Regions from separate parts of the Homo sapiens genome. Here regions 2, 3, 4 and 5 are each linked to region 1. The links come from fine-mapping of genetic effects on gene expression. A gene starts in region 1. Each other region holds a variant in brackets. All regions are shown on one strand. Distances are between the middles of the regions.

Region 1 (6,072 bases):
CTTGAGCATTCTTTGAAACAGGCTTTGAGGCAGCTGTTTTTCCTTCCTCCAGCATCCTAAGCAAAGGTGCTGGAGTTTGAGAACTAACCACTTAACTCTAAAAGGTCTCATTCATAAGGAAAGCTATAAAAGCCTCAATGCATTTTATCAAAAGGGCCTTGGATTTCTCTTCTTTAAAGACAACACCCATTTCTCCTATCAATAAGACAAATGAGTTAGACATGACCTATTAGTCACCCCATTAAGTTATATAGGAGCTTATGGAGAAAAGGGCTGGCTGAGAACAGAGACACATTTATCTCACGGTGGGTAGCAGCCACTTCAAAATAATGTGAAAGAAAGTTCACCTCTCCAGTAATATTCAAGGTGAAGAAAGCACTTTCTCAGAGACCTAACTTGTAAAAAATAGTAAAAATTAAACATTCAGGTCACCTGAATTTTATATTAGCTGCTTTACAACATAGGAAAATCACCCAAAAGCCTTAAATTTCTAGCTCCCCATTTGTAAAATGGGGATAAATACTGTTACCACTCACCTATATTTTAGAAAACTAATAAAAAACAATGATGTAAACTGCAGATACTTTCTTAAATTCTAGATGTTTAGACAGTTAATTGCTAACTGTTGTTCTCACCTGAACAAGTACAGATCAAAATGAAACATTTAACATACAGACTCTATTTTCTGCTCCCGATAAACAACAGAAGAACCGATAATCCATTGTTTAAATCTGCTCGGGGTTCAAAATAATATTAATTCAAGTAAAGAATAGTAACACAGGGAAAAAGATCCCTTAAACTCTTTGGATATTAAACATTTGTCTTCTACTGATACCTTGGTAAATATCAGTTCCACTTTCTGAACTAACCTGAAAGTAAAGCAACTGCTCATAATCAATGCAGAGTAGGTACTGAAGAATTATGCCAATCAAAATTGGTCTTCATATTATGCAAATAATTTGTGTCTAGTCACCATAATCTTTTTAAATGTCAAATTGTTTACCTATTGAAAATACAACAGAAAATTTTTTTTTCCTCCTACTGATCAATTAAAGAAACAGACTGTTTAAACACTCAATTTCTAAGTGGAAAGACTGATGGAGACACTGCAGCCAAATAGCTTCTTGAAGCAATCTTGCATGTGCAGATTGAAAGCAGTTTTTATATCATGGGAGACAGTTTTATATCAAGGCAGAATACTGCACCCTTACATAAAGCCTCACAGAAACAAGTTAGAATCATAAACACATTCACTTAACTACTGTTCAGTGCCCAATGTACCTGAAAGATACATGGATATCATTTCAGGTATCAGAAAATTCTAGTTCCAGTTTAGTCAGAGAAGAGAAACAACAGTCTTATCCCAGTAGATCCCAAGTTAATTCCTTCCAGTTTCTCCCCTATCATAATATTAATTGCTTTCTTAATAAAATGCTGCAGTAAAATTTGTGAACTCAGATTCTGGCAGAAAATCAAATCAAAGGAAAACTCTTCATGATAGTTACTTTTGCATAGCCAGCCTCCTGCCTACCTTATTATGTTTTTGCTGGTGTCTTGCCTTTGTGTCAAGAACGTGATAAGGGCTTTCCGAGTCTTGGTTGATGTAATATATGAGTCTTGAAGGCAGTGTGATTTCTTTCTGCATTGCATTGCTGTAACTGATATTACTGCTGCTATTCTGTTGCAATGTATTGTCTTCATCTGCCAGGACTCCCAAATTTTTTTCTGCAGTTTCATTCCAATGCGGAGCTGGTGGAGGTAGGGGGGTGGGGGAGCAGAAAATACAAACATACACAAACACACACATATTTACCCCATAAATACATAAGCACTAAAATGCATTTTTCCTTTAATTTCAAACACAAAGTTTTCTATTTATAAGCAGTTAAGAAGTAGAGCTAGAGTAAAGCAAGTTATTTCAACAATAAAATGGCCTGGAGAAGTTAATAAATAGCCAATAAGGCTTATACAACTGTGCACTATTTATTTTGATTTATGTCTTATATATACATTTCTAGTCAGACTCAAATCTATACTTCTAAGTGTTGGGGGGGGGGTAGAATGAACTTGAGGGAAGAAGAGTCATTAAATGAACATGTTCAGGGGTCCTGCCCCCGATCTCCACCCCTTCTCTGAGTCCACAGAAGCACAACTCTACTCTGCCTAGTGGCATCCCATCCAAGAGCTAAGAACGCTCCTAAGATAACTTGAGTACTGAATTTATGGATACCGAATATTAATCGACTCTTTTAACAAAATGGACAATTCCCTTCTCTTTTAACTTTAAGATGAGCAAACATACTTTGCCATGTAGGGATACAGATGCTGGCAGCTTCCCAATTTCTTTTTATTTTCCTGACAAAGCCAGCTTTCTGCTTTCAGTGACTTCCAATCATCAATATATAGAAGATGGTATTATATTAATTGTTCATTATAATGACAAGCACTTTGAGAAATCAGAACCAAAGGTCGTGCATGAAGTATGTCTTCAGCACCTTAATTCTTTGGTCCCCGAAGTGTGCCTCCCCCACCTTAATTCCAACCGCACTGAATGCGCCGGATACGAAATTTGAGGAAACAGCCCATTACCACTATTATCACTACATCCTCCCCGCATTCACATTAAGGTTCCACCACGCAAGTAGCAACTTGCTCCCTCGCTGTATTTCCCATCCACTGGTTGCCCCTCCGCAAGTTGCACAGAGATCGCTGAGGGACCCAGGATCCACTAAACACCTCCCAGTGGAACCAACAAGAATTGGAATGGGTTTTTCGCGAATGCAACAGAAATGGACTTCCAAAAGTGAACTGGGATGAATGGGGGTTTGGGAACGAGAAGGGTGGAAAGACAGGCAGGGAGGGAAGGAAAGGCCGAGCCGGGGACAAGCCCGGAGCACACGGACCCGCGCGCCCTTCGCTTTCCTCTGCAGGGCCCCGCGGGAAAGCCAACGCAAAGGGCACGGGGCCATACCCACCGCTGGGCGCAGCAGCCCCCCAGGCGCGGGGCCGGGACGAGGCGGCGAGCGGAGGCAGCAGGAGAAGGACGAGAAGCAGGCGGCAGGGCGGCGTGCGGGCCGGGGCGCTGGCAGGCACCGAGCCGGCGGGGCCGCGTTGGGGGCCGCAGGAAGCGCCGGCAAGGCTGCAGCCCGCCAGGGGCGGCTGCCGCGAGCTGCTGCCGGGCGGCTTCATGGCTCATAGCTCCCGGGCGCCGCTCCGTGTGGCCGGCGAGAGCGCCGGGCTAGCTGCGGGGCGGCCGCGGGCGGAGCCGGTCACGCCGGCTCGGCGCGCATGGTGCCGCGGCGGGCAGGGGGCTCCGGGCTCGGGGCACGGGGCGCGGGGCTCGGGGCTGGGCGGCGCCCCCTTTCCCGGCTCGCCTAGCCTCGCAGCCACTCCCGGGGCGGGACGCAGAGGAGTCCAGGGGTCCTCGCCGCTCCGCCAACTTGGAGCCTCCCCAGCGGCTACTCCCTCCCCCGGCGGGCGCGGCCGCTTCAGCGACTGCGGGGGCTGCCGCCGGGCCTGAGGATGCTGAGGCGGCGCGCGGGAGCGAGCGGCGCGGGGACGCGCGGGAGCGAGCGGCGCGGGGACGCGCGGAGCGGGCGTGCGCCCCGCCCCCCGAGAGCGCGCCCGAGCGGGGCTTCGGGTGCTGATGCTGTTGCTGGATGCTGTGCTGCTGCTGTTGCCTGGCCCGGAACGCACTGCGCATGCTTTGTTGGGGGGCGGGGAAGGGGGTAAAGCAGCAGAGTGATGCAGCAGCCCAAGCAGCATCGGAGGTGACGGGTGGTACCTCAAAAGATGGGGGCGGTGGAGGGGGAGCCGGCAGTCACGGATAAGCCAGAAGAAAGAGAGTACGGGGGTTTCCAGGCCAGAGACAGGGATGATCGGGAGAAAACAACCAGCCGAAGTCCACCTGCCTTTTCCACCACCCCAGACTTCACATACCCTCTCCTATTCCAACCTCTTCCTGCTCTGGATAAACTAAGGCCACGCATCTCCTTCTTAATCCCTTATATATTTGCTTCCTGCATGTAAATATAAAGGATTGCAGCCGGGGAGGTAAAAATAGCGCGGCTCCTCATTCAGATTGCCAGCAGCGGGTGGGACTGCGGCTGAGAAGAGCGTTTGCGCCGCAGGCTGGCGCGGAGTGGCAGGAATCCCCCGCGCAGGGGCGCTCTGCCCCGGCCTGTGTCCTCCCTGCCGGTGCCTGGGGTCTTTGAGGAAAGCACAAGAAGCCGGACGGTGTTTGCTCAAAAGTTCAGAAAGTATGACTGGGCATATTCGGGAAGGACTTCGACATTCTGGCGGGGAAGCAATACAGAGATTAGAAACCAAGTGTGTGGCAGCTATCTTGGGAAATCCGTTGTTTGTCAACCACGGGGATGGGCACACATTTAGGAGGACACATTTCTATTTTTGAGATCCAGTCCTGACTTCTGCAGAGGAAAGGGGAAGTTTTCTCTCGTTGCTGTAAAAAATGTAAATCCCTGACTTCGGTGGGTTCGCAGCCACTAAATCTGATGGCTTCAGATAAGAGTCTGTGGCATATTTCTGCCCCCAAACTCTCATAATGCAAGCATTCATTTATTCACCCTCCCAATGACAATCTGAGTGATAACAATGTTGTCTTACTCCGACATCCACGGGGTGAGGGCTGGGGTGGAGAATTCCATGATTAAAAGAAAGAATGTGGGTATAAAAGTGCCATGGCCATGACAGAACTCAGTGTTAGCCATCATCTTCTCCACTCACACTTAACAAAGAGAAAAGAAGAAGACATATACGCGCGCGCACACACACATTACAAAACTGTTAGGTAAATACTGAGATAACTTCCTTTCTATGTTGAGCTAGGATATTATTATCACATATTTATTCCTGTAAATTTGTAATTGTTGCTACCTCCCCCATGTGAGGGCAACAACAGTTTTCCCTTCTGCACACCATTGTGTCCCTAGGACCTCACACAGTGTCTGAGGCACAGAGAAATCGCTTGGAAAATATGTACTAAATGAATAAAGAAATGGGTGATACACACAAGCAGAAGTCACACTTGGGGCAGGCTAGTGAACACTCTAGCCCCACCGGAGTGCCCACTGCAGGTCAATGTTCTTAGGGTTGTCTCCCTCAAGTCAAGTATTCTCTGGCTAGGTTTTCCAAATTTATATTTGACACAATATGCATCCTGAAAAAGGGCCTGAGAGAAAGCAAGCCAGAAAGGAGATGTACAAGCAATGAGAAGGGAGAGGGAAATGAAAGGTGCAAAGCACCCAGATGCAAGTTACTTGAAAGGCATCTCTTGCAATTCAGTGACAACCTCTTAAAGTCTGTTCTGATAAATAAACCTATCAGCCAACCTGGACTGACCAAACCCACCCACCAGTTACAACACATCATTTCATGCACTTGGGGTATGGAATGAGGATTCAATATAGTTTCTTTTTTTCTTTTTTTTTTTTTTTTTTTGAGATGGTGTCTTGCTGTGTCACCCAGGCTGGAATGCAGTAGTGCGATCTCAGCTCACTGCAACCTCTGCCTCCCAGGTTCAAGCGATTCTCCTGCCTCAGCCTCCCAAGTAGCTGGGATTAGCTGGGATTACAGGCACGTGCCACTACACCCGGCTAATTTTTGTAGTTTTAGTAGAGACGGGGTTTCACCATGTTGGCCAGGCTGTTCTCAAACTCCTGACCTCAGGTGATCCACCCACCTCAGCTTCCCAAAGTGCTGGGATTACAGGCGTGATCCACCGCACCTGGCCTCAATATAGTTTCTAATAAGGGGTTGGGGTATTTACAAAGAGGGATGTTGTCTTATGTACTATAGTCAAAAGACTGCATTTATTTACAGAACTTTAATGGTTACAGACATTGCTAGAGTCAAAATAAGATATCAATAAATGAAATAATGAGTCAGAGAAAGAGTACATTACTTAGAAAAAATTTACTGGAAGTTTAGTCTTTAAGCCATATATTTAAGGGAAGGTTAAAAACAGAATCAAATATTAACTGATTAAATAATTTAATTGGTCAACTTGGTAGAGTTAGTAATATTCTTATTAGGTAGTTCAGAATTTTTATT
Region 2 (6,072 bases), 50 kb before region 1:
TAGGGTGTCAATTTTAGATCTTTCCTGCTTTCTCTTGTGGGCATTTAGTGCTATAAATTTCCCTCTACACACTGCTTTGAATGTGTCCCAGAGATTCTGGTTTTTTGTGTCTTTGTTCTCGTTGGTTTCAAAGAACATCTTTATTTCTGCCTTCATTTCGTTATGTACCCAGTAGTTATTCAGGAGCAGGTTGTTCAGTTTCCATGTAGTTGAGCGGTTTTGAGTGAGTTTCTTAATCCTGAGTTCTAGTTTGATTGCACTGTGGTCTGAGAGACAGTCTGTTATAATTTCTGTTCTTTTATATTTGCTGAGGAGTGTTTTACTTCCAACTATGTGGTCAATTTTGGAATAGGTGTGGTGTGGTGCTGAAAAGAATGTATATTCTGTTGATTTGGGGTGTAGAGTTCTGTAGATGTCTATTAGGTCTGCTTGGTGCAGAGCTGAGTTCAATTCCTGGATATCCTTGTTAACTTTCTATCTCATTGATCTGTCTAATATTGACAGTGGGGTGTTTAAGTCTCCCATTATTATTGTGTGGGAGTCTAAGTCTCTTTGTAGGTCACTAAGGACTTGCTTTATGAATCTGGGTGCTCCTGTATTGGGTGCATATATATTTAGGATAGTTAGTTCTTCTTGTTGAATTGATCCCTTTACCATTACATAATGGCCTTCTTTGTCTCTTTTGATCTTTGTTGGTTTAAAGTCTGTTTAATCCGAGACTAGGATTGCAACCCCTGCCTTTTTTTGTTTTCCATTGGCTTGGTAGATCTTCCTCCATCCCTTTATTTTGAGCCTATGTGTGTCTCTGCACATGAGATGGGTTTCCTGAACATAGCACACTGATGGGTCTTGACTCTTTACCCAATTTGCCAGTCTGTGCCTTTTAATTGGAGCATTTAGCCCATTTATATTTAAGGTTAGTATTGTTATGTGTGAATTTGATCCTGTCATTATGATGTTAGCTGGTTATTTTGCTCATTAGTTGATGCAGTTTCTTCCTAGCCTTGATGGTCTTTACAATTTGGCATGTTTTTGCAGTGGCTGGTACCGGTTGTTCCTTTCCATGTTTAGTGCTTCCTTCAGGAGCTCTTTTAGGGCAGGCCTGGTGGTGACGAAATCTCTCAGCATTTGCTTGTCTGTAAAGGATTTTATTTCTCCTTCACTTATGAAGCTTAGTTTGGCTGGATATGAAATTCTGGGTTGAAAATTCTTTTCTTTAAGAATGTTGAATATTGGCCCCCACTCTCTTCTGGCTTGTAGAGTTTCTGCCGAGAGATCAGCTGTTAGTCTGATGGGCTTCCCTTTGTGGGTAACCTGACCTTTCTCTCTGGCTGCCCTTAACATTTTTTCCTTCATTTCAACTTTGGTGAAATCTGACAATTATGTGTCTTGGAGTTGCTCTTCTCGAGGAGTATCTTTGTGGCGTTCTCTATTTTTCCTGAATTTGAATGTTGGCCTGCCTTGCTAGATTGGGGAAGTTCTCCTGGATAATATCCTGCAGAGTGTTTTCCAACTTGGTTCCATTCTCCCCGTCACTTTCAGGTACACCAATTAGACGTAGATTTGGTCTTTTCACATAGTCCCATATTTCTTGGAGGCTTTGTTCGTTTCTTTTTATTCTTTTTTTATCTAAACTTCTCTTCACGCTTCATTTCATTCATTTTGTCTTCCATCGCTGATACCCTTTCTTCCAGTTGATAGCATTGGTTACTGAGGCTTGTGCATTCGTCACATAGTTCTCGTGCCATGGTTTTCACATGTACATTTTTAACCTCAGCTAAAATATCAGTAGTACTCATTTTTGCAGCTTATAAAACTTCTGGCTGTTAAAGCTGTGTCAGGTTGAGATACTAGTGGGAAAAAAGATGCAAAATAGCTAAGCTGTATCAACAATCCATCACTTCCATTTATCCAGTAAACATTTGATATCAACCACTGAATGGCCAGCTAAAATAAATGGATGCTCAAAAAGTTATTGTCCCTCACCACACCCAAAAGTACTGAACTACTCACCCTCAAATTAGTCATCCTTCAAAACAGCTCAACCATCTCCTCCTCTGTATAGCTTTCCCTGATCCCACCCTAAACTGTGGGCTCCTTAAACGAACTGCATCTTATTCTTGTTTCCCTATGAGCTGGCATAGTGCACAGGGAGGGCAAATGCTAGCAATCATATAAAGAAACCCTTTACCACTGAACAGCTTTAAAGAGCAAACATTTTTTTAGGGTCAAGTATTAGCTCAGTCCTTAATGAATAAATATGAACAGTAATAAGGGAGAGCCTCAGACACTAGTAAGTTTCTAAGAATCCCTTGGTTGGTCAAAGGGTTTCAGTTTCCATTTTGCAGAATCAGTAAGTTCAGTGGATGTAATGTGCAGTATGGTGACTATAATTAATTATACTGTATTGTATAATTGAAATTTGCAAAAGGAGATCTTACATAGTCTCAGCACAAAAACAGAAAAAAGATAACCATCTGAGGTGATGGATATGTTAATTAGCTTGAGCGTGGTGATCATTTCACAATGTATACAAAAATTAAAACATCACCTTGTATACCTTAAATATGCATAATTTTTATCTGTCCATTATCTTCAATAAAGATGAGAGGGGGACATTCAAGAAAAACAAGAAATCCTGGAGATTTACAAGAGATATAATCTATTCTTATGCTGTGAGATCCTTCTGGTCACATGTAGTTTAGTCTGATTTATTGGATGTGTGAACTCACTTGGGCAAAAAAGAAAGGAGGAAGAAATGAAATGTGCTCTCTACAATGTATTAGAGATTTCCACCTTCTTATTTGAAAGATATTCCTGTAAAATGGAAAAATATATTTGTAATTATATTAAAGGACGTGAAACTTTTTGTAGAAATTGTTTCATTTAAAAAGCCAATATAGGCTAGGTGTGGTGGCTCACGCCTGTAATCCCAGCACTTGGGAGGCCGAGGCAGGTGGATCACCTGAGGTCGGGAGTTCGAGACCAGCCTGGCCAACATGGCAAAACACTGTCTCTACTAAAAATACAAAAATTAGCTGGGCGTGGTGGCGGATGCCTGTAATCCCAGCTACCTGGGAGGCTGAGGTAGGAGAATTGCTTGAACCTGGGAGGTAGAGGTTGCAGTGAGCCGAGATCGCGCCACTGCACTCCAGCCTGGGTGACAAGAGCGAAACTCC[G/CG]TCTCAAAAAAATAAATAAATAAAAAGCCAGTATAGATTATTTTGTTTTTAAACACAATCTAAATATTATATTAAGGCTCATGGATATCATCATGGAAGAAGCATTAGAACAAACTTGTTAAAGAGAGTACTTTTATAAATAGCCCATAATAAACCATAGTTAGGATTCTTATTTGGGGATTCTAATTTATAATTAATTTTAAAAGATTAGGAGAAATGACTCTAGATGATGAGATTCTAGTGTATGAATCATCCAAAAAATGGTTCTAAAACAACACAATTCTCACTGGCAACAGATGACCATCAAGAGTCTTAATGAGCCAGTTCATGTGATGTCAAGCCCTTACTTTATATAAATCTATGGAGAACCAAGAGGAAAATTTAATAAGTTATTGTTTGGGACTAGATTTATGCAATGAATAGTAGTATTCAAAATAAAGCAAGGTTAAGACACAAATGATATAAAGTTTTTTATTTCTCTAAGGTTCACATTTGTAGAGCTTTTCAAACACATTTTTAGTCAGACTTCTTTATCACTGAAAACGTCTGCTATGGTTTGAATGTATAGGTCCCTCCAAAATTCATGTGGAAATTTAAACCCCACCTATGAAGAGGTGGGGTCTTTTCAGGGTGATTAGGCCATGAGAGCTTTGCCTTTATCAATGAGATTAATGAGATTAATGAGATGATCAATGAGATTAATGCCCTTACAATAAAGGCTTTGGGAGAATTGCCTGGCCCTTCCATATGGCTCTTCTGCCACGTGAGGACACAGCAACAAGGCACAATCTTGCAAGCAGAGATCCCTCACCAGATATCAAGGCTTGGTCTTGGATTTCCCAGCCTCCAGAACCATCAGAAGTAAATTTCTATTGTATAAACAATATATAAATATTGCCCAGTCCATGGCATTTTGTTATAGCAGCACAAACGAATTAGATAATGTCTCAACTCTCCAAGGCTTTGACAATGGGCATTCCTAGGTCTGTTCTTGGCTGTTACTTACTAGCTGTGTGGTTCTGTTCACCTCTCAAAGCCTCCATTTTCTCTCACTCCATGTCCCAAGTTTCTTGCTTACCTTCAGGCCTCCACACTCTCTCCCCCTTCAAGCCTTTTCTGACCACCTCTTAAACATGCTTTAGGCCTGAGTTGAGACATTTAGCTCCATAAACATTTACCTTGTTATCCATTTCTACCTCTAATCTGGGTTAGGTACCCCTCCTATGTGGGATAAAAACATCCTGTACTTTCCCCATCACAGTACTTCTCAGATTGTCATTAAATGCCTACAGATTTGTCTTTCCTCCTCCATTGTTCTATAAGCTTCATGAGGGAAGGACTTCTCCAGGCAAACTTTGACAGTGCCTGGCACTTAGCAGGCACTCAATAAACATTTGTGAAATAAAAGTGCTCGGAATCATTCATGAATGGCTTCTGTCAATGGAAATCTATCCATCAACTCAGGTTAGAAAGAACTTTATACACTTGGCTAACACAGAGGGTCAATATGAGAAACCCATTTAAGAAAAATAATGGTTGCACACATTAACCATTATGCTATTGAATGCCCTACTACATCAGGCGTCAAGGGATAATTCCTCTTTGACAAGGAAACATTTATATCTCTAGAGAGATAAAATTCTTGTATCAGATAATGAAAATTACACAACCCACTAAAAGGTAAGATCTCATTTCAGTAACTACTGTAATAAACTTATCTCAGATGCTTGGTCACATCTAATTCTCTGTGCTTTTCAATTTTTTGTCACAATTAACTTCTGCTGGAATTTTTATACATTATTTGTCTTTGTCTTCAAAAGACCAAGAAGTGCTCTGAAAAAATGAGTCAAGTTCAGATTTTATTTGCCCACATTCTGCATTGGGGTGGATACCCGCAAAGGGTCTCCTTTTATCCACCAGTCAAGAAATAGTCTCCTGACTCACTAGAGATGTCTTTTATATCCTAGGTAAGATAAACAGTGTAATATGATCCCATCAACAATTAAATTCTTTTGATTTTGCTACAAATTCTTAGTTGCCATACTTTTTATTCTCCTGCTAAAGACTGTAGCCACAGGGTCCTCTTTTCTGGGCAATCCCAGTTTTCTCATCTCCCAGAACCTAGAAAATCTAAATCTGGCTCCTGTGGCCCTCCTCATTTCTCTAGCCTGGTGCTTAATCTCCCTGGGTCCCAGTCACTCACAATAATTATTGTTAATAGGCAAGCAGGGGTAGGGGCAGGCAGAGGGCAAACATCCATTGAATTTCACCACCCAAGAGTTATGCTGGATTTTGTTCATCTATGAAAATCAAGAATCAGTATATAAGTATCAATGGTTTGGTTGTGATTTTATTTTTAATAATCTTGTTATGTTTAATTGTGCAAGTCATTCTCAAACCATTTTGAAAGTAGGTTGCATAGACACCCTAAGTAAATAGAACCAGAATCTACTAAAATTTAGACAATATTTCTTTTATTGTATATGTTTTCAAGATTTTCTGGACCTGATCTACCAGCATAAAGATGAGTCATCAAAAGCAAATGATAATACCCAAGGCATTCAATATGGGTTGACTCAGACCAGAAATGTCTGATCACCCTGATCAGAGAAAATATGGCAACAAAAAGAGTTACCTGGCACTCTAGAATTAAAAAGTTTAGAAGCAGACAGGAAAGGGTGGCTTCAGGAGAGAAAAATCCATAGCAACTCATTCCTACCAGCACTAGAAAGCTTAGAATACTATCAGGCCTCTAGGACATATACAATGCAATATTTGACTACATCATATTGCACACAGCACAGTGGCAATCAATATTTACAGCAACTTTGGGGATACCTGCCTCTTAAGATTCTTTATCATCACACACTTTTTCAAAACTACCAAAACAGTT
Region 3 (6,072 bases), 170 kb before region 1:
TTCCACTGATGTCCCAGCAGGGGGAAAGTGAGCTCCTCTACAAGGGAGGCCACACTGCGATGAGGACAGAGATGAACACTCCTGTGGCAAGCGGACTGTGAAGGTGCCTCACACATAAATTGTAAAACCATCACAGTCACTGTATGTTGAGAACGGTCTGAATTTTCTCTATGAAAAAAATATTCTTTCAGTTCAATTTTAATGTGAAAGTACAACTACTGCGGGCAGGTCCTTGCTGACTTTCTTCATAACGGTTTCCTCTGAATACCCTCCGCTCACTAGGATTCTGAAGGTAATTAACTTTCTCATAACCTGTAAGGTATTTCTGGATCATTATAAAACACTAGCATAATCCATAAAGCTTACATTTTCACAGCTTTCATCCATTTTTACTACTTCTGAAATAATCTGGACTTTTGTCTACAATATACATTATACACATAACATCTACACAAAATTAAAGCAAGACTCTTTCAGTAACAATAACCGTCTCAGAGCCGTAAAGCCTTTAGTTCTTCTTTCAAGGGCATATATTTATCCATGGTTAGCACATTCTTATCATTCTATGCTGAGTCACCCCCTGACGAAGTGTCCCTAGCCCAACCCCTCCTAGGCCACCATACACTGAGCTCACTTCCCTGGGGCGCTGGGGCAGGGAAATGCACCGATCTTCCTGGCCAGCCTGGTACCATGAAAGAGAAAGTGCCTAACCCAGGAGTCCCAGGCATTAAGGGAATCAGGCTTCTCATTTTGAACTGGGATACAGTCATGGAATTCAAAAAAACAGCAGTCTGGTTATCCTCCTCGTGGAAAGACTAGCCAAATTTAATTCAATTTCCTAATTCAATAAAAATCAAAAGGCCCCCACAAAAAATGGTGTTTACTCTTTTGAGAAAATATAATTAACAATATTAAGTTCCTTTCAAATTTTATCTGACTTGACATTCAGATAACTCTTTTTTTTTTTGAGACAGAGTTTTGTTCTTGTTGCCCAGGCTGGAGTGCAATGGCGCAGTCTCGGCTCACTGCAACCTCCGTCTCCCGGGTTCAAGGGATTCTGTCTCTGCCTCCCGAGTAGCTGGGATTACAGGCGTGCACCACCATGCCCGGTTAATTTTTGTATTTTTAGTAGAGACAGGGTTTCACCATGTTGGCCAGTCTGGTCTCGAACTCCTGTCCTCAGGCGATCTGTCCACCTCAGCCTGGGATTACAGGCATGAGCCACCATGCCCAGCTTCAGATAACTCTTAACTTTGCTGGTAATAGTCTAGATATAGCTCTTTTTCATTTTGTGTGAGTACATAAACAGCCTTTTCTTTAACATGTCCAATAAAATGGAACGTAGGCCAGACAGAATCTCTTAAATCCAGAGTCAGGCTCAGAAGAGCTTTTAACACAAATAACTTCTCAGAGAGAAGGAATCACGTATGATAATTACACAGACTTATTAATATTAAATTAACACTTTTAATGTAAGGAGTAGCTATGCCAGGCCAGTATGGCCACTGATGAAATCCACTTTGCCACTGAATCCCATGGACAGGGCAAGTAGCGGGAGAGTAAGACGTGGTGATGAGGTTCTACAGACTGAGGTGTTACGGTATCACTGGAAAAGCTCAGTGTTCATCCTGTAGTCCTTTTGATTTCAATTTTCAACAAACCATGTCACTATTACCTTCATTTCTTTTCCTACCATCACCTAGAATTTCTCTTTTCCTACCACCATCACCTACTAATGTGCATGTAAAACCCTACATTCAAATTTAGGGAATATCAGATAAATAGCAACGCCTAAGGTGCTGAAGACAATCCTGTTCACTTTTAAATGGAGATATGAAATTCTCTTTTCATATACTTTTCACCTTTCCTAAGCTTTAGGGAAGATGCTACTAAAATGGTCCTGCTTTTTCTAATGTCCAGTAAAAGCAACAGCTCTAACAGTCGAATCAAGCAGTATCATCATTTAATGTTGGGTAGGTGTCATGAGTCTCCATGAGTCAACTAGGACAGAGGTTTGCAATCCTCTGCACCACAGCTCATAACTTTATTCTTGTGTGTGGGTGATGGGGAAGAACAGGAGCATGGGGTGAATGAAAATAAATGCAGATATAGAAGTAGAGCAAATTGGTGTGCCACATGCCTATGTTCGTTTTTCACAGGATTTCATAGAGAAATTCCTAAGACCCTCAATACCTGGGACTCTACGACTAATCATACCCTTAGTAACCTCATACTTCTGGAGTATGAAATTAAGCAAAGTTGGCTGGGCACAGTGGCTCATGCCTGTAATCCCAACACTTTGGGAGGCCGAGTCTGGCGGATCACCTGAGGTTGGAAGTTCCAGACCTGCCTGGCCAACGTGGAGAAACCCCATCTCTGCTAAAAATACAAAATTAGCTGGGCGTGGTGGCGCATGCCTGTAATCCCAGCTGCTCAGGAGGCTGAGGCAGGAGAATCGCCTGAACCTGGGAGGCGGAGGTTGCGGTGAACTGAGATCATGCCACTGCACTCCAGCCTGGGCAATAAAAGCAAAACTCTGTCTCAAAAAAAAAGAAAAAGAAATTAAGCAAAGTTACTACCCATAACATTACACAATATGTGACAATATTTTTTAAAAATCTACCAAATAAAACATTTAAAAATTCTTCAGGAAATCCACAACCTTGCTTGTGGAAGTCTTGCTTGCATTAACCAAAGCGGTCTGACTCAACTAATCTACTAAAAGGAAGTATGTAATTTAAATCAGTATTATTTTCAGATTATAATAATCTTGATACATCTTTATTATCACTTCACACACACAAATGTGCACACATTCACATACATGCACACATTTT[C/T]ATGCTTTTTACCACCTATTTCAGAGGAAATAATAGTTTAAGGAAAGAACTTTAAAGAATGGCAGACAAGGTCAGGGCTTAGAGCATAGCTGTATTTCTCATTTATACTTGGGCAGGTCACGTATAGTATGATACTTCTACATCTAAACTACTCACTAGTACACCTAAAGAAATGTGACATTAGGAAAATATAGTATTTTCCCTGAGTAGTTACTGTATTTTCCTTTAATCAAAAAGTTGACATGCCCTCAAATTGTTCAGGTTACCTTACCAACTTTTCTTCTAGAAATAAAAACCTGGTATCAGGAGGGATTCCCAATAGCAGCATTTAGAACAATCTTTTGTACAAACTATTTTCAACTTCTGATTCTAAAGGAATTTCTTTTTAAACATTTACATTGAACTCAAACCCAAAGGCTTTCAGTTCAAATAGCAAATAATTATACTTACGAATTATCTCCAGACTAGTAATCTCCAGAACTGTCCAAGTGGTGGGAAAATCTAAACATTATCATTCAGCACCAAAAGCCTTTTATTACAAGGTAGAAGTGTTATTTAAAGCTGAACACAAACCACACAGTTACTACTAAAATCTAAAGCAAATTAAGGTCCTCATGTAGCAACCAACAGTCACCCAGGAGTAGCACATTCTCCAAATTTAAACTCCTGAAGTTACATGTTCTGGAATTATTCTTAGTCTTCATCGTTTTCTTTGCTTCGGGGCATGAAATACTTCACCCTATTGTGTGTCTTTCTACACAGTTCTCCCTGAAAGTGATTATCAGAGTTACAGGGCACAGGAAGGGGCTTTGACTCAGCTCAGCAGTACAGGTCCCTACACAGCAACAACCAGGCAGCAGTCAGCAAAGGCTGTTTCTCATCTCACTAAGTGCTGATCCCCCACCTTTTGTTTTCTGTTCTTGTGATAACGAGATCTCTCTCTCTCTCAGATATAAAGAATCTTTACAGGGCCTAATCCACTTATATACACAGTGATAAAGGCTTTTCCATTTTTCCCCAAAGAAACATGCAATTCAAGCTGTGAGCTAGGCCAGGCCACTGTTTTGAGGTCCTGCTACAGAATAGTGTGCTCTTCTCTCGAAACACTGCAATGATAAATTTGGCATTGCATATGGCTAGACGGCAAAGACGTGTAATAGACTGTTTTCCAGGCCTTTGAAACCGGGATTTCTTAACGCCAAATGAGGCATAAGCCTGGGCATGATCCAGATTTATTTTTCTTGAGGCATACTAATGAAAAAGTTCAAGGAAGCATTATAAAATAATAAGAGTATGGCAGTACTATAATGTTCAATGACTTTTTTGTAGCAGTGGAACACTAAGAAAAGTTTTGCTTGAATTAGGTCCGCCCAAACGAAAACATATTTCTTACTAGATGCCACATGCGTGACTCACTATGTGGGCAATATTTTATTAATACCAAAACAATAAATTTAAATATGAGTTGTCCATTTTATGAGTGTGTTTTTGAAAACACACTGATGCCAAGACTACATTACTAAACAAGTTCAACTCTACAAATATACCGAGAGAAAAGACGTATAATTTTATAATACTATTTCAAGTTAAAGGCACTCCAAAACTGTAGACTTACTCAATAAATCTTAATATGATAACAAATTAGCAGAAAATGTTGAATGTATTTAAATCATCTTTGGTTTCTTTAATCAGCTTCTAAAAATAACACTTTAACTGGCTGAAACATATTGAATTCAAAATCCCAAATATAAAACATATAAAGTTTATAATTAAGGCAATTATTCAGATAGTTCAGGGCAAAAGCTTCCTCTTTTGAGTAACCAGATGCAGGCAAAGTGGGTTTTGAATTTGGGTAATGGTCTTATTTCCCACTTAAATTTGTTTCTGTGAATCTGGCTGAAAATTTATCACAGGAGGCACAGGAGGGCTTACCTACAAATCATAATCATCAACTCACTATAGCATGAAAAGGTATAAAAAGCAATTATCCAATGATTCTGGAGTGTAGAAATAGCCAGCCTGGATAAATCAGCTTTAAAAATTTTGATCACAATTGAAGTTTATTTGTGAATACCCAGTGTGTCTATTTAAACAATCTTAGTTCAGTAAGCAGTGTGCAATCCAAACTAAAAGGTCACTATGAAAACACACCAGGCCTACCTGTCAGGTCAATATTTAGTCCTTGATTAGAAAATACTAAGTGTCACAAAGCCACATTTTTCAAATTCTGATTTAAAACCAATTCAGTTGGTCGAGGATTATACAAATACTTTTAAAATCTGTTTTCATTAAACTATAAAGCTTTTCAAATCACAAAGCTACATATACTATGTTACATATGAAAAATACAAGTAATGATTGCATAATTACTTAGGTTGTGAAAATTTCAAAATATCAGTGGACTACAAACAAGTTTTAAACAGATACAAGCAATTTACATCCACTTATTTCCAACTACATGGTTTCCTCGATTTCCTGTGTAGAAATGAATGTATCTCAGAGTGCCTGCTCTTACAAGCTGGACTGTCTTCTACCAAAGAACTTCGTTGTTCTCCTTAAAAATCAGTGTATATGAATTCCTTCTACATTTCCACTTGCCTGAAAATGACAGTTGAGGGTCCGTGTTTCTTCATTTCTAACCCATTTCTGAATAAAAAGACTTATTTTTTGCAGTTTGACTGACAGAACCTAAGCTCTTGTAGCAGGAACTCAAAACTTGGTTATGTAAGCAGAAAAGAGAAATGCCAGAGCCACTGAGAAGAAGACATGCGGCGTTGCTTACTTAAATCCCCAGCCTGTGCCCCCAAGGACAATAGCTGCTACCAGGATGGCACCAGCGATGGAGCCTATTATGAGATTGGTGGCACTAGGACCTGTGACAAAGGATCATGGGAAGAGAGTCATATGAACCAACCACTTTCGTTACCACAAGGGAAAGGCAGTTAAGCAGTTTCAGGAAGTAAATATCCTGTGTAAAAGACGGCTAAACATTTAAATTGCCTTTATTTACTTAGCTTAATTGCATTTTAGATGCTACGGTGAGCGTTGCTTGGATTTATATGCCTTTAAATCTAAAGTTTCTGCACCATTGACAATTAAGTTCCATTAAATTCACCTTTCACAGAATTTGAAGCAAATAGGCCCCACTTGCTGTCTTTACACATCCTTCTTCTCTTCCCCTCTCCCAGTATCATGTATCAAATAAGTAAAAGCACAGAGAGAACACCATCGCATT
Region 4 (6,072 bases), 85 kb before region 1:
AAATCCAGTGAGGTTTCCCCACTTTGTTTCCTTTCTGGTGTCCCCAGTAACTGGGACACTGCTCAGGTTCAGTGGCACTTGTTGATTCCCTAGAAGTCAGAGTTTCTTTCTGTAGCCATTCTGGGGATCTTCACCCTGACTGACGGAGGTCACTGTTTCTTACATACAAATCATCTCTCTCTCTCTCTTGCTTTAATCCAAATCCACTTGCTCTTTATTAATCCTCCCTGAAGACAAGAAAGTTCATCTCCAAATGAAGGAATCAGATACCCAAGTACCCTCATATTCAATGTCCCGTGGCCTTAAGCAGGCTTATTTGCCCTCTCTCTGCCTTAATTTCTTCCATAGTACAGCAGGAATAATAACATCCACCTCATAGAATTGTTATGAAGGTTAGAGAAAAAGTACTACCTAAATCTCACTTCCCCCACCTGTCCTCTGCCCTTCTTGGGCAGCAAAATCATTTGCACTAAAGAACCGTTCTAACAGCCCATCCAGTCTTCTAATCCAGATTCGATGGCCATGAGCCTCATCCTTCTTTACTAACTACTTTCAGGTGCTGATATGGAACTGTATAGCTCTTTATACTATCACAAAAGGTACTGCATGTATAATCAAAACAATAAACATTTTTTGTCCTGAATACCTAACGTTACCTCAAACATTTGTATATTTTAATAAATTTCTCCTCACTAAAAATAGTATCATTGTAAAAGAGCACAGGTGATTTTACTGAGACAGACGTCAAAACAACGCAGTGTGCACTGATCAACTCTATGATAAGCACACTTATACTAGAGTACTTGCCGACGCCGGTAACCGTACCTTAGAGTACTGTGGTTTCCCATTTTCGTAGTGAATCTCCACATAATCAGAAGACAACAAACCACTACAAAGGAAAGAAAATAGAGTGATTTCTGCATCTAAGACACTTGGAGGTTTAAAAACAATCGGCTCAATAAATGAACGTGAGGGGCATGCAAACCAGAAATAGCTGCAGTCCATGGTTAGTACAGAAACAAAAACAGGTTATCATCGAGTTTCACACAGTATCCAGGAATAAATTACTCCCCAATCTGCAGAAAAAAAAAAAAAAAAAAAAAAGACAAGACACAGACAATCCAACGGTGAACTCTTTTTTTTTTTTTTTTTCTTTTTGAGACTGAGTCTCGCCCTGTCGCCCAGGCTGGAGTGCAGTAGTGCGATCTCGGCTCACTGCAAGCTCCGCCTCCCGGACGGTGAACTCTTTTTATTCACATTATTCAGGATCTGATTGATATGTTAATTAATACAGAACAAACCAAAAGGCAAGTAACTTGAGGAGACAGATCCTATAAAAATTCCACAATTATGCCCTAAACAGTTGGAATGTCATAAAATGTAATCACCAAGGAAGAGTATAAAGCAAAGGTCAGCAAGGGTTTTCTATAAAGGCCAGGGAGTAGATATTTTAGGTTTTGTGGGCCATGCGGGCTCCACTACAACTACTCAGCTCAGCCATTATATTGCAAAAGCAGCCACGGGCAGTATGTAAACAAATGAGCATGGCTGTATTCCAATAAAACTGTATGGACACTGAAATTGGAATTTCACATAATTTTTATGTGTTATGGAATATTATCCTTCTTTTGATTTTTTTCAACCATTAAAAAATACATAAAACAAAGCCGGGCATGGTGACTCATGCCTGTAATCCCAGCACTCTGGGAGGCTGAGGCGGGTGGATCACGAGGTCAAGAGATCAAGACCATCCTGGCTAATATGGTGAAACCCCATCTCTACAAAAATACAAAAATTAGCCGCGCGTGGTGGCACGCACCTGTAATCGCAGCTACACAGGAGGCTGAGGCAGAAGAATCGCTTGAACTCAGGAGGCGGAGGTTGCAGTGAGCCGAGATCATGCCACTGCACTCCATCCTGAGAGACAGAGTGAGACTCCATCTCAAAAAAAAAATGTATATATACACACACACACACATATAAACATTCTTAACTTGCAGACTGTACAAGTTAAGAATGGCCAGAGATTGCTTGTGTGCAATAGTTTGCCAATTCCTGGGATAAAAGGAAGGGTAAGGGGTCAGGCACAGTGGCTCACACTTGTAATCTCAGCTTTGGAAGGCCAAGGCAAAGAATTGTTTGAGGCCAGGAGTTTGAGAACCAGCCTGGCAACATAGCAAGACCCCCATTTCCAAAATATTTAAAACATTAGCCAGGTGTGGTGGCATGCACCTGTGGTCCCAACTACTAGGGAGCCTGAGGTGGAAGGATTGCTTGAGCCCAGAAGATCGAGGCTGCAGTGAGCTACGATTGCACCACTGCACTCTAGCCTGGGTGACAGAGTGAGACCCTGTCTCAAAAGAAAGAAAAAGAAATTTAAAATAAATAAATAAATAACAAAGGTTAAGAAAGTCATTGAAGTCAAATAGTGTTTAAAACCTATTTTTTAAATAGGCAAGTTCCCCAACTTGTATGTCAAATGGAGATGGTCAAGGATGTGAATCTCATAGAACATTGTGAGGATTAAAGGAAACCATGAATATGCAGTATTTAACTCAGACTATGCAGTACTAGGCTAAGTACTGCATTTCTTAGCCTAGTACTTATTCAGTACAGAGTACTGAGTA[T/C]GCTGATTAGGTACACATTAATTGGCATTGTGGCAGTCACTATTTTTATTTTAACTCAACTTCTTAAAACATATTTCTCCCTATACAATGTGGAAATACAAAATATGTGCCTCCTGAAGAGCACTGGATTATTAGGGCATCTAGGTTCCTGTTTGGGCTCTATCACTAGGAATAATGACAAGTGATAACTCGCATTTGCTGACCACTTACTATGGCACAGGTACTGTTATAAGGACTATAATGGTATTAACTCATTTAATCCTAATGGGAACTGAAGGACAAGAGTAGGTCCCACTCTAAGCCAGCTGTATGCTCTAAACTTGGGTCTTTATTTCTTCTTATGCAAAAATGAAGGGCTAAAGCAGAAGATTCCTCAGCTCATGCCCTATTCTGCTATTCTGATTTTCTATAATTTTGCCTCATAGTAGGTTTTCTTGTTAGGAAACCGTGACACTACTTCTTTAGCTGAAAAATGGGAGGACTCAATGATTTTGCATCATTTTGAGAGCTGCATCTGATGCATTCTAAAAATAATCCAGTGAAGAGGGCTGGAAAGGGGTGTTGAGCACCAGTCAACAGAGTAACTGGGGGCCTCCTGGGTATGTCCTGCGTATGTCCTGTGTGTGATGAAGGACAACCTTTCCAACACAGAAAGGAAGCCAATGCTTAAACTTTAGACATGTTTCCCATTAAAATCACAAACCAAATGTGTACTGAAGGATAATTCTACACTTGAAACTAAATTGTGGTATGTCTACTCATTCCTTTTTAAAAATCTCAGATAGTAAAAGTAATGACAATTACTGAACTCTGTATACATGGGGAATATCTCACAGGGTGCAGAAACTTATTTCACTGCTAGTTAATTAAGTTGGCTACCAGCACTATGATATACATAGATGAAGCTGGTGATGGTATCATTCTTCTGCAGAAAGCTTCTGCAACACCAGGAGGCAGAGAGGTCTCCCTAACTACATTCCAACTGTGTCTCTCTACAGGTAATTTACTATTTTCAACATTTTCAACCACACAATCATTGGAGCACATCTAAGAGTTGGAAACAACGTTATCTTAATTTTGCCTGTAATTACAAGGGCATTCTAACCATGAATTCCCAAATCTCATAAAGGTCACTTTAATTATCCTATTTCCCTCTTTTTAAGGGTCTCTTCTTCTCATGAACATACCTGTTTCTAGTATCTCTGGCATTTTAGAATCTTAAAGAAGAAAAACAGCTACTTTTCAGGAGGTCTATGGCAAATACTGAGAGAAATACACCACCATATGCCCCTCCTCACCATGCCAGTCCACTCTTCTACTTCCTGTAAATAGCACACATCCCCATTTACTCCATTCTTTCCTTCTGTCTGACCACAGCCAGCCTCCCTTGAAACTAATTATTCCACTCATCACAGTATCCCTAGCACCTGGCATAATGCCTAATGCATAGTAGGCCCTTAATCAATATCTGCTGAGTGAGCAAACATCTACCAACACCTGCTATAGGGGCTTGGAAACAGGGTGAAAAATGCAACTTTCAAATTGAAACTAAGCAAAATCAGCACAAATGTGCAAGATTGATCACCTCACTCAAAAATATTATTTTGTAATCTCCTTGAGAGTGAATTACATCAACTGAAATGTAACCTAATTAATTATAAAAGTCTTGAAATAATAGTGAAATGTAATTTTTGATGATGGACAAGAAACACTAAAAAGGGAGAAGGGAATAGTTGATTGTGCAGTGGTGTCTCCAGCCCCACCCAGCCAGGAAGGAACCGGTAATCTATGTCTCCACATGCCTGAAGATGAGTTGTCCTTTCCTCCACCTCTGCTTTCTGTAGTCCTAATACAATTTCCTGTTGGAAACAGAATGTTCTGAAATGCTAATACTCATCTATTTAGCAATTGCGGACCCAAATATAAACTGGCATTTTACTTTGTTGATCAGCCAATTGGATGTTTGGTTCTGAAGATGCTAACAACTTGTGGGCAAACTCTGAACATCCTAAATTCTAAAATAAACATCTTTTTTCAATCACTGAAGCTACAGAAAAGCTGTATTCTCTGGCTACTCCCATGCTTCTCATGCAGGTTATCTGTTGAAAGAGGAGTGACCTTTATAAGTAAATGAATAAACGTAGGATGGAAGTTCAAGCCAGTGAAAGAAAGTGGAAGAACTAGAACAAGGAAACTCTTGAACCCACTCACTCTGCCCTTCATGGTGAATCTGCACCACTAAAGTGGTGAAAACTCTAGGAACTCTAGAATGAGACTAAATATGATTTTACTCAAAATATGAAGAACATGTAAGAGCAGGAGAATATAAAACTATTGAAACATGACAAATGAGCCAAGAATCAGGTCAATGAAGGGAACTGTGGCAGAAATAATGCTGTGTGTCCACCAAATGCTATTTCATTTTCCCCTTCCTGGCATCCTGATAAGACCACATTTTGCAGGTTCTGCTGCAGTTAGGTTAGGGCCAAGACAATGGATCATGGCTAATGAGACATGAAGGAAGTGATGTCTGCCCCTCTAGTGTGACCACTAAAATCCCTGCAGGATTATCTAAGCCCTCTCTTCCATGGCAACCCTGGAAGCCACATGCTCCAGATGGCATAACAGAAATATGAATGCAGCCTAGACCCTTTCATCATGATTTGGAGAAGAACTGTCTAAAAGAGCTACTCAACTTGCACTATATCGCAGTGTGGGGAAGAGATAACATTTTACAGTGCTGAAGTCTCAGATTTCATGTTTGTCACTGAAACATTGTCTAAACTGTCCTAATTTCAGGATTTATCACAAATATCTTTTAGAAATCTATGTTCAAAGAATTTCACAATCATCAGCAACTATACAAGCAGAGCTGCTATTATATTTAGGAATTGGAAATTCACAAAAAGAGATTTACCTCAGGAAAGTTTTATATGTATGTGTATAGACGTGTGTCTGTGTGTGTCTGTGTGTGTGTGTGTGTGTGTGTGTGTGTGTGTGTGTGTATTTGTTGGAATCCTTGAATATGAGATTCATGTTTCTAATGTAAGTAGACACATAAACAGCCATGTGGTCAAAACTCCCAAAAGTTTATATCTTCCATTACAAGGAAGTTCCATATGGAGAAGCCAAGGATTCTAATAATTGGAAAAGTTAGGTACCAAGATTCCCTAGTATCTAGGAAAGCTATTAACCAAGAAGAGTAGATCCAGTTTTTTTGGAAAATAACTTGAACCCCTTACTTTAAACAAAGAACCAGCCAGACGCGGTGGCTCATGCCTATAATCTCAGCATTTTGGGAGACTGAGGCAGGCGGATCACAGGGTCAGGAGTTTGAGACCAGCCTGGCCAACATGCTGAAACCCCATCTGTACTAAAAATACAAAAATTAGCCAGGTGTGGTGGTGAGCGTCTGTAATCCCAGCTACTCAGGAGGCTGAGGCAG
Region 5 (6,072 bases), 160 kb before region 1:
GGTGGGTGGATTTTTATAGGGGACATATTTGAAAACAAAGGTTGCAGCTGCTTTTCATAGCTACAAAGAATTTATCATCTCATTGAAAAAAATTCTACTTCTACACTAATTTATCTATTCTGTAATTTATTCATTAATTCATTCATTACCTACTAAATACCTTTTTTTTTGTTCAAGGAACTATGCTGGACACACGATGATATATCTTATTTTCCTTCTCATCCTACCAAACCTGGAGATGGAACGCTTAAAGCTTCTAGCTGACAACACAATCCTTTTATTAGGAACTTAACTTTGCTCCCTAACTCTTTGATACACTTACTTTTCAGTATAATGTGTTTGTGGAATCTGTTTATTACCTAGCAGAATGTTTTCATTTTTGTTTACTTGCTTATTTCCATTACTTGTTGGTTTATTATTATTTTCAGTCTTGGTCCCTGCTACCTAGGTTTACTTGTGCTAAAAGACAGAATTTTTGGTAAGTATAAAATATCAAAAACTATAAATTTTCTCCTTTTCTTAAGATTTTCTATTTTATATGTAGAATTCCTTTATAGACATGTCATGCTTCAGACATTTTGAAAATGTGCTGTTTTGAAATTGAGTGGGTTTTTTTCCTTATTTTTAGAGAGTTTCTCAAATAAGAAGATGCATTATTTCCCCCAAGTGATTCCAAAGGGGGTTAAAATCCTGTATCTTTTGATACTTCACAGGCAGGAGGCATCAAAGTCATCATTTGTATTCCATGGACCAAAGTGCTTTCTTCAGGGATTTATTATTCCACTACCATTCAAGACAAGAAAAGTAAATACTAAATAAACTCTTTATATACTAGTGTATAATATTGGTATGTAGCTCCATATTTCAATACATTATACATACAATCAGATCTCCTTACTGTTTTCCATAAAAGAAAAAAACAAGTTCATTTTTAGATACATGGACAAATGTCTAAAAGGATGCAAAATAAATGATTTCATGTAAGAATATATTTCAGTTTATGCTGTCAATGAAAATAGGGTTTTTCTGAACTGAAACAAAATAAATTCAGTTATTAAAAAATTTTTAAACTTGATATATCCTTGGGTTATTGATAAGGCCATTGTTATTTGAGAAAAATATCCAGGTAGCACATAATTATACATGAGCATAATCATATATGATAAGGATAACTTCTCATATCTAATCATCTAAACTATAAAATCAAAGATTTGTGCACTGACGAAGACAGTCACCAAAAGGATATATTGCAAAAGGTAAATGTAAACACTAAATACTCCTCAAGGTTAATACCTCAGAAAATAAGACTTCAAAACTATTATTTTAAAAATACTAAATGATAATAATATAATACTTCCTTTCTTATCTAATTCCATAAAAAGCATCACTGACAATAATGGATCAGTTAATAAGCTTGATTACTACCTGGTTATTGTTTCACTTTCTGTTTACTATTGTGCTATGAGAACTAGCAGAATAACTTAATATTCAGCTTTTTTTTTTTTTTTTTGAGAAGGGTCTTACTCTCTTGCTCAGGCTGGAGTGCAGTGGTGTGATCTTGGCTCACTGCAACCTCTGCCTCATGGGATTAGGTGATCCTCCCACTTCAGCCTCCCAAGTAGCTGGGACTATGGGCACATGCCACCACAACTGGCTAATTTTTTTATTTTTTTATATAGACGGGGTTTTTCCATGTTGCTCAGGCTGGTCTGGAACTCCTGGGCTCAGGCAATTTGCCCACCTCAGCTTCCTAAAGTGTTGGGATCACAGGCGTGAGCCACTGTGCCTAGCCTCACTATTCAACTTCAAAACAGGAGTATGGAATAACAGAAAAAAGCATTTGGCTCAAGATAAGGTGATTATGTTATATTATTGGCTCTGCCTCTCACTCTTTGTTAACCCTGAAAACTAACTTAGTTTCTTCATTTGTAAAACAAGGGGTCTAGACTGAATTCTTTCTAAGGCCCTTTTCATTTCTGATTTGATGAGTGTGGTTGTGATGAAAAGGTCTGACCAAAGCTTCCCAGGAATATCTGCCCATACATATCACTGAAAACATTACCTATGTCCCAGTTTCTCTTCCTTCTTACAATGGTGATGTAAACTATCAAATGAGAAAAGTTCCACTGTATTCTATAGTAAGCACCTTGAGAATGTGTCTACATACAGACAATAATTGGGGTACTTGATGTGGGTCTCCCTGTAACAGGAGAGAATTCTAGGTCTTTTAAACAGAGTTAAAATACATTCTGTCCTTGTAGAACAAAGCAAAATAATTTTCTATAATGATTTCAGTGGAAACAAGTTGAGAGAAGGACTAGGCTTAAAAAATATAAAAAATTAAAAATAAACTTAAGAAAGGGTTTTTGCATGTGAAATGAACAACGTAGAAAAAATAAATAATGTGACAAAAATCTTTTTTAAAAAATCCTTGCTCACATGGTTTGTGCTTTGAGATCTTATTTCTTGTCTTTCAATAGTTTGGTTTGAGAAGTTGGCGTGAATAATCTAGCATGCCTTAAATTATGGGTCCATAGTGGACAACTGTAGTAAGTACAGGGTGACTACAGTGGCAATGCTTTCAGGTATGCTTTCAGTCCTCACACAGGAGAGGTTGAATTTCCTATTCTTCCAGGAACTTATAGTTAAAATAAAAGAAATACACAAAACACATCAGTTCATTTCTGACATTCTCAAATCAGTGAAGACGGAGTCATAGAATTCGCCTTCATTTTTACTAATTTGGTCTTGATCCAAAGGGCAGTTGGGTACAATTTATCTTTTATGCCCATGTTCATGATTTTTAAAAAGGCCATATTTTCATTATGTTTCTTGAATTTTTTTCTCTATATAATGGAAGCACATTGAAATTAAATAAAACTAAGTATTTTTAATACTCTTACTGCACCTATACAGAAAACCTTCATCTATGGATATGATTGGCCACTGTGGGTGGTGCCCATTATAAATGGCAAGCATTTGGGGAGGGCCCAAACACTGTGCTCAATCAGGCAGGTGCCAACCAAACCAGTTGGATCATGAGAAAAAAGATACAACATGCAGTTTTTGGTTTTTTTTCCTGAGACAGTGTCTCACTCTGTTGCCCAGGTTGGAGTGCAGTGTCGCGATCTCAGCTCACTGCAAGCTCTGCCTCCCAGGTTCACGCCATTCTCCTGCCTCAGCCTCCCGAGTAGCTGGGACTACAGGTGCCTGCCA[C/T]CACGCCCAACTAATTTTTTTGTATTTTTAGTAGAGACGAGGCTTCACTGTGTTAGCCAGGATGGTCTCGATCTCCTGACCTTGTGATCCGCCCGCCTTGGCCTCCCAAAGTGCTGGGATTACAGGCGTGAGCCACCGTGCCCGGCCACAACATGCATTTTTTGAGAAAAATCTTAGTGTCTCACACACTGCTGAGCCTACAGTAAGTAAAACACTGATTGTTTTAATAACTTGAGTCCATTACCTATTACTCGTCGGCAAGGCAACAAAACAAATGAATATGGATAAACTGAAAAGTGGCACTAGCATGCACCATCTCATTTCCTTTGCATATTTCAAAAGAGAAGAGTGTAATATTTATGGAGTGTCTGTGTGCCAAGCATACGCTATCTTTTAAATAGTAGACAGTCAATAAATATTTGCTAACTGAATAAAACGAAAAGCACATAATTTCTCACTTGGAATCTTCTTTTAACCTGACAATCAAAAACAAAATAATAAAATCTACAACAGAGTTTTAAAATTTTTTAGTTTCTGTTTTACCAGTATATTAATAGATTTTTTAAATAGAGGTTAAAAAGATATAGATAGCTATTACAGATAAAAGCTATTATTTACTTGTACTAAAATTGCTTGAATTTTCTGGAAATGTAAATATTTATAAAAATAACTAGGTCATTTATTTCATTTAATGACATTTTCAATTTAATCAAAATTATTAGAGATTCATAAGGTTTTTAATAATTTTAGAACCAATAGATAACTTTGCAATGACTCCATTGTCTTCATTAAAAATGGAAAAAGAAAAATGCAACAGGAAAGAAGCATACCAGAATGCTTATCTCTTTTTTTTTTTTTTTTTGAGATGGAATCTCGCTCTGTTACCCAGGCTGGAGTACAATGGCACGATCTCGGCTCACTGTAACCTCCACCTCCTGGGTTCAAGCGATTCTCCTACCTCAGCCTCCCCAGTATCTGGTACTACAGGCACGCACCACCATGCCCGGCTAATTTTTGTATTTTTAGTAGAGATGGGTTTTCACCATGTTGGCCAGGCTGGTCTCAAACTCCTGACCCCAGGTGATCCGCCTGCCTGGGCCTCCCAAAGTGCTGGGATAACAGGTGTAAGCCACCGTGCCTGGCCTCTTTTTTGGGGGATGAGTAGGGGGCTCAGTGTCTCACTCTATCACCCAGGCTGGAGTACAGTGGCACGATCTTGGCTCACTGCAACCTCTGTCTCCTGGGTTCAAGCAATTCTCGTGCCTCAGCCTCCCAAGTAGCTGGGATTATAGGCATGTGCCATCGTGTCTGGCTAATTTTTGTATTTTTAGTAGGGATGGGGTTTCACCATGTTGGCCAGGCTGGTCTCGAACTCCTGACCTCAGATGATCCACCTGCCCTCGGCCTCCCAAAGTCTTGGGATTACAGGCGCGAACCACTGAGCCAGGCCCAATAAGGCTTATCTTGAGCACCTCTGAGTTTTAATATTTTCCGTATTTTCAAATTTTTCTACAATAAGTATGTATTACTTGAAGGATCAAAAAAGTTATTTTTTTTTAAAGGTAGTGTGGGATACTACCACATTAAATGGAGAGAGTAAAGCAAAACAAAACAAAAGGCAGCTGTGAGTACTCTTTCTCTAGAATGTGACTTTCTTTACTTAATGCCTCCAAAGATTTTTAGGCATGGGTGGGTGAAGGAACAGGGAATAGATATTACAGAACCAGACAATTAATAACCCCCTACTCTACTTAAAGAAAAAAAGGCAGAGTCTAAGTAAATTTAGCTCTGCTCATCCGTTGAGGCATCTTTATACATCACTTGAGGAAATAGCATCTAGATCTTAAAAAAAAAATCACAGAAACACTGTGGAGAGAAAATTTGGAAAGAATGAACCTTGGCTTCTCTTGTTAGAGCTTAAATCTTCTCTAAATCTAACTTCAGAAGGTGGATCCAAGAATTTTTTGTTCTAGTTTTAAAGTAACAAAAGACTAAGTGTAAAAGTGGAATACGTTCCCTTTTAGAAATAGAAGAAGGAGAACAGAAATAGACTGTGAGGGTGTGATTATGATTCTTACAGAATTTTAATATCATGGGCATATTAAGCAAATGCATAAAATGTGTTTTAACACACCCACTATTACTGAACAATTCACATGCGCCTGAATCAGCCTAAATCTCTTCAGGAATTGAGGACTACAGAGCTTCATCTGCATCTGAAATCATCTTTTCCCATATAAACTATACTGAAGTTCAGAGAGTTTCAATAAACTTTCATCCAAAACTAAGCTGATCTAAATGGTACTAATCCTATATGCATTTTCCTACCTGTCAGAGAAAAGCACGGCAGTTACAAAAAAACTGTTAGCAGTACCATGATAAAGAAGCTGATGTACAACGTCATCCCTGTATATAAAAACTGGTTCTAGTATTTCCTTGGTTTCTTAGGTACAATGTAACAGATGCTGTAGTAGGCCTGTTTGTGACTGATGGGTTTTCTAGATCTTTGAAAATTGTATGAGGGGTTGAGAATCGGGAGAATAATGAAAAATGATTACCATACTCCTGATAACACAGACTACATTATAAGATGATGTAAGAGGCCAGGCGCGGTAGCTCACACCTGTAATCCCAGCCAAGGTGGGTGGATTATGAGGTCATGAGTTCAAGACCAGCCTGGCCAAGATGATGAAACCCCATCTCCACTAAAAATACAAAAATTAGCCAGGCGCAGTGGCAGGTGCCTGTAATCCCAGCTACTCAGGAGGCTGAGGCAGGAGAATCTCTTGAACCCAGGCAGCAGAGGTTACGATGAGCCAAGATCACACCGCTGCACTCCAGCCTGGTCGACAGAGT

The links. PIP is the estimated chance that this variant, and not a neighbour inherited with it, causes the effect. A credible set is the group of variants that fine-mapping cannot tell apart.
Region 2: its variant is the best candidate, but not a certain one, in a credible set for the expression of ADAM23 in esophagus mucosa (GTEx, PIP 0.81).
Region 3: its variant is the best candidate, but not a certain one, in a credible set for the expression of ADAM23 in skeletal muscle (GTEx, PIP 0.51).
Region 4: its variant is the best candidate, but not a certain one, in a credible set for the expression of ADAM23 in whole blood (TOPMed, PIP 0.61).
Region 5: its variant is the best candidate, but not a certain one, in a credible set for the expression of ADAM23 in tibial artery (GTEx, PIP 0.68).

What each region holds. Positions count from the first base shown.
Region 1 is chr2:206,440,984-206,447,055 of GRCh38, reverse strand. It overlaps ADAM23 (ADAM metallopeptidase domain 23), which reads right to left and starts at 3,524. Exons shown (of 26, transcript NM_003812.4): 1 at 2,976-3,524; 2 at 1,532-1,749. The coding sequence starts at 3,189. RefSeq lists a silencer at 2,950-3,079.
Region 2 is chr2:206,490,502-206,496,573 of GRCh38, reverse strand. The region is part of intron 3 of ADAM23 (ADAM metallopeptidase domain 23); the gene reads right to left. Among named protein-coding and RNA genes, the nearest start is that of ADAM23, 50 kb to the right of the region's middle. The variant G/CG (reference allele first, on the strand shown) is at 3,180.
Region 3 is chr2:206,609,548-206,615,619 of GRCh38, reverse strand. ADAM23 (ADAM metallopeptidase domain 23) reads right to left here. Exons shown (of 26, transcript NM_003812.4): 25 at 5,620-5,710. Among named protein-coding and RNA genes, the nearest start is that of FAM237A, 30 kb to the left of the region's middle. RefSeq lists an enhancer at 1-1,036. The variant C/T (reference allele first, on the strand shown) is at 2,838.
Region 4 is chr2:206,525,702-206,531,773 of GRCh38, reverse strand. It overlaps ADAM23 (ADAM metallopeptidase domain 23), which reads right to left. Exons shown (of 26, transcript NM_003812.4): 4 at 826-889. Among named protein-coding and RNA genes, the nearest start is that of ADAM23, 85 kb to the right of the region's middle. The variant T/C (reference allele first, on the strand shown) is at 2,628.
Region 5 is chr2:206,597,211-206,603,282 of GRCh38, reverse strand. All of the region lies in intron 24 of ADAM23 (ADAM metallopeptidase domain 23), which reads right to left. Among named protein-coding and RNA genes, the nearest start is that of FAM237A, 42 kb to the left of the region's middle. The variant C/T (reference allele first, on the strand shown) is at 3,217.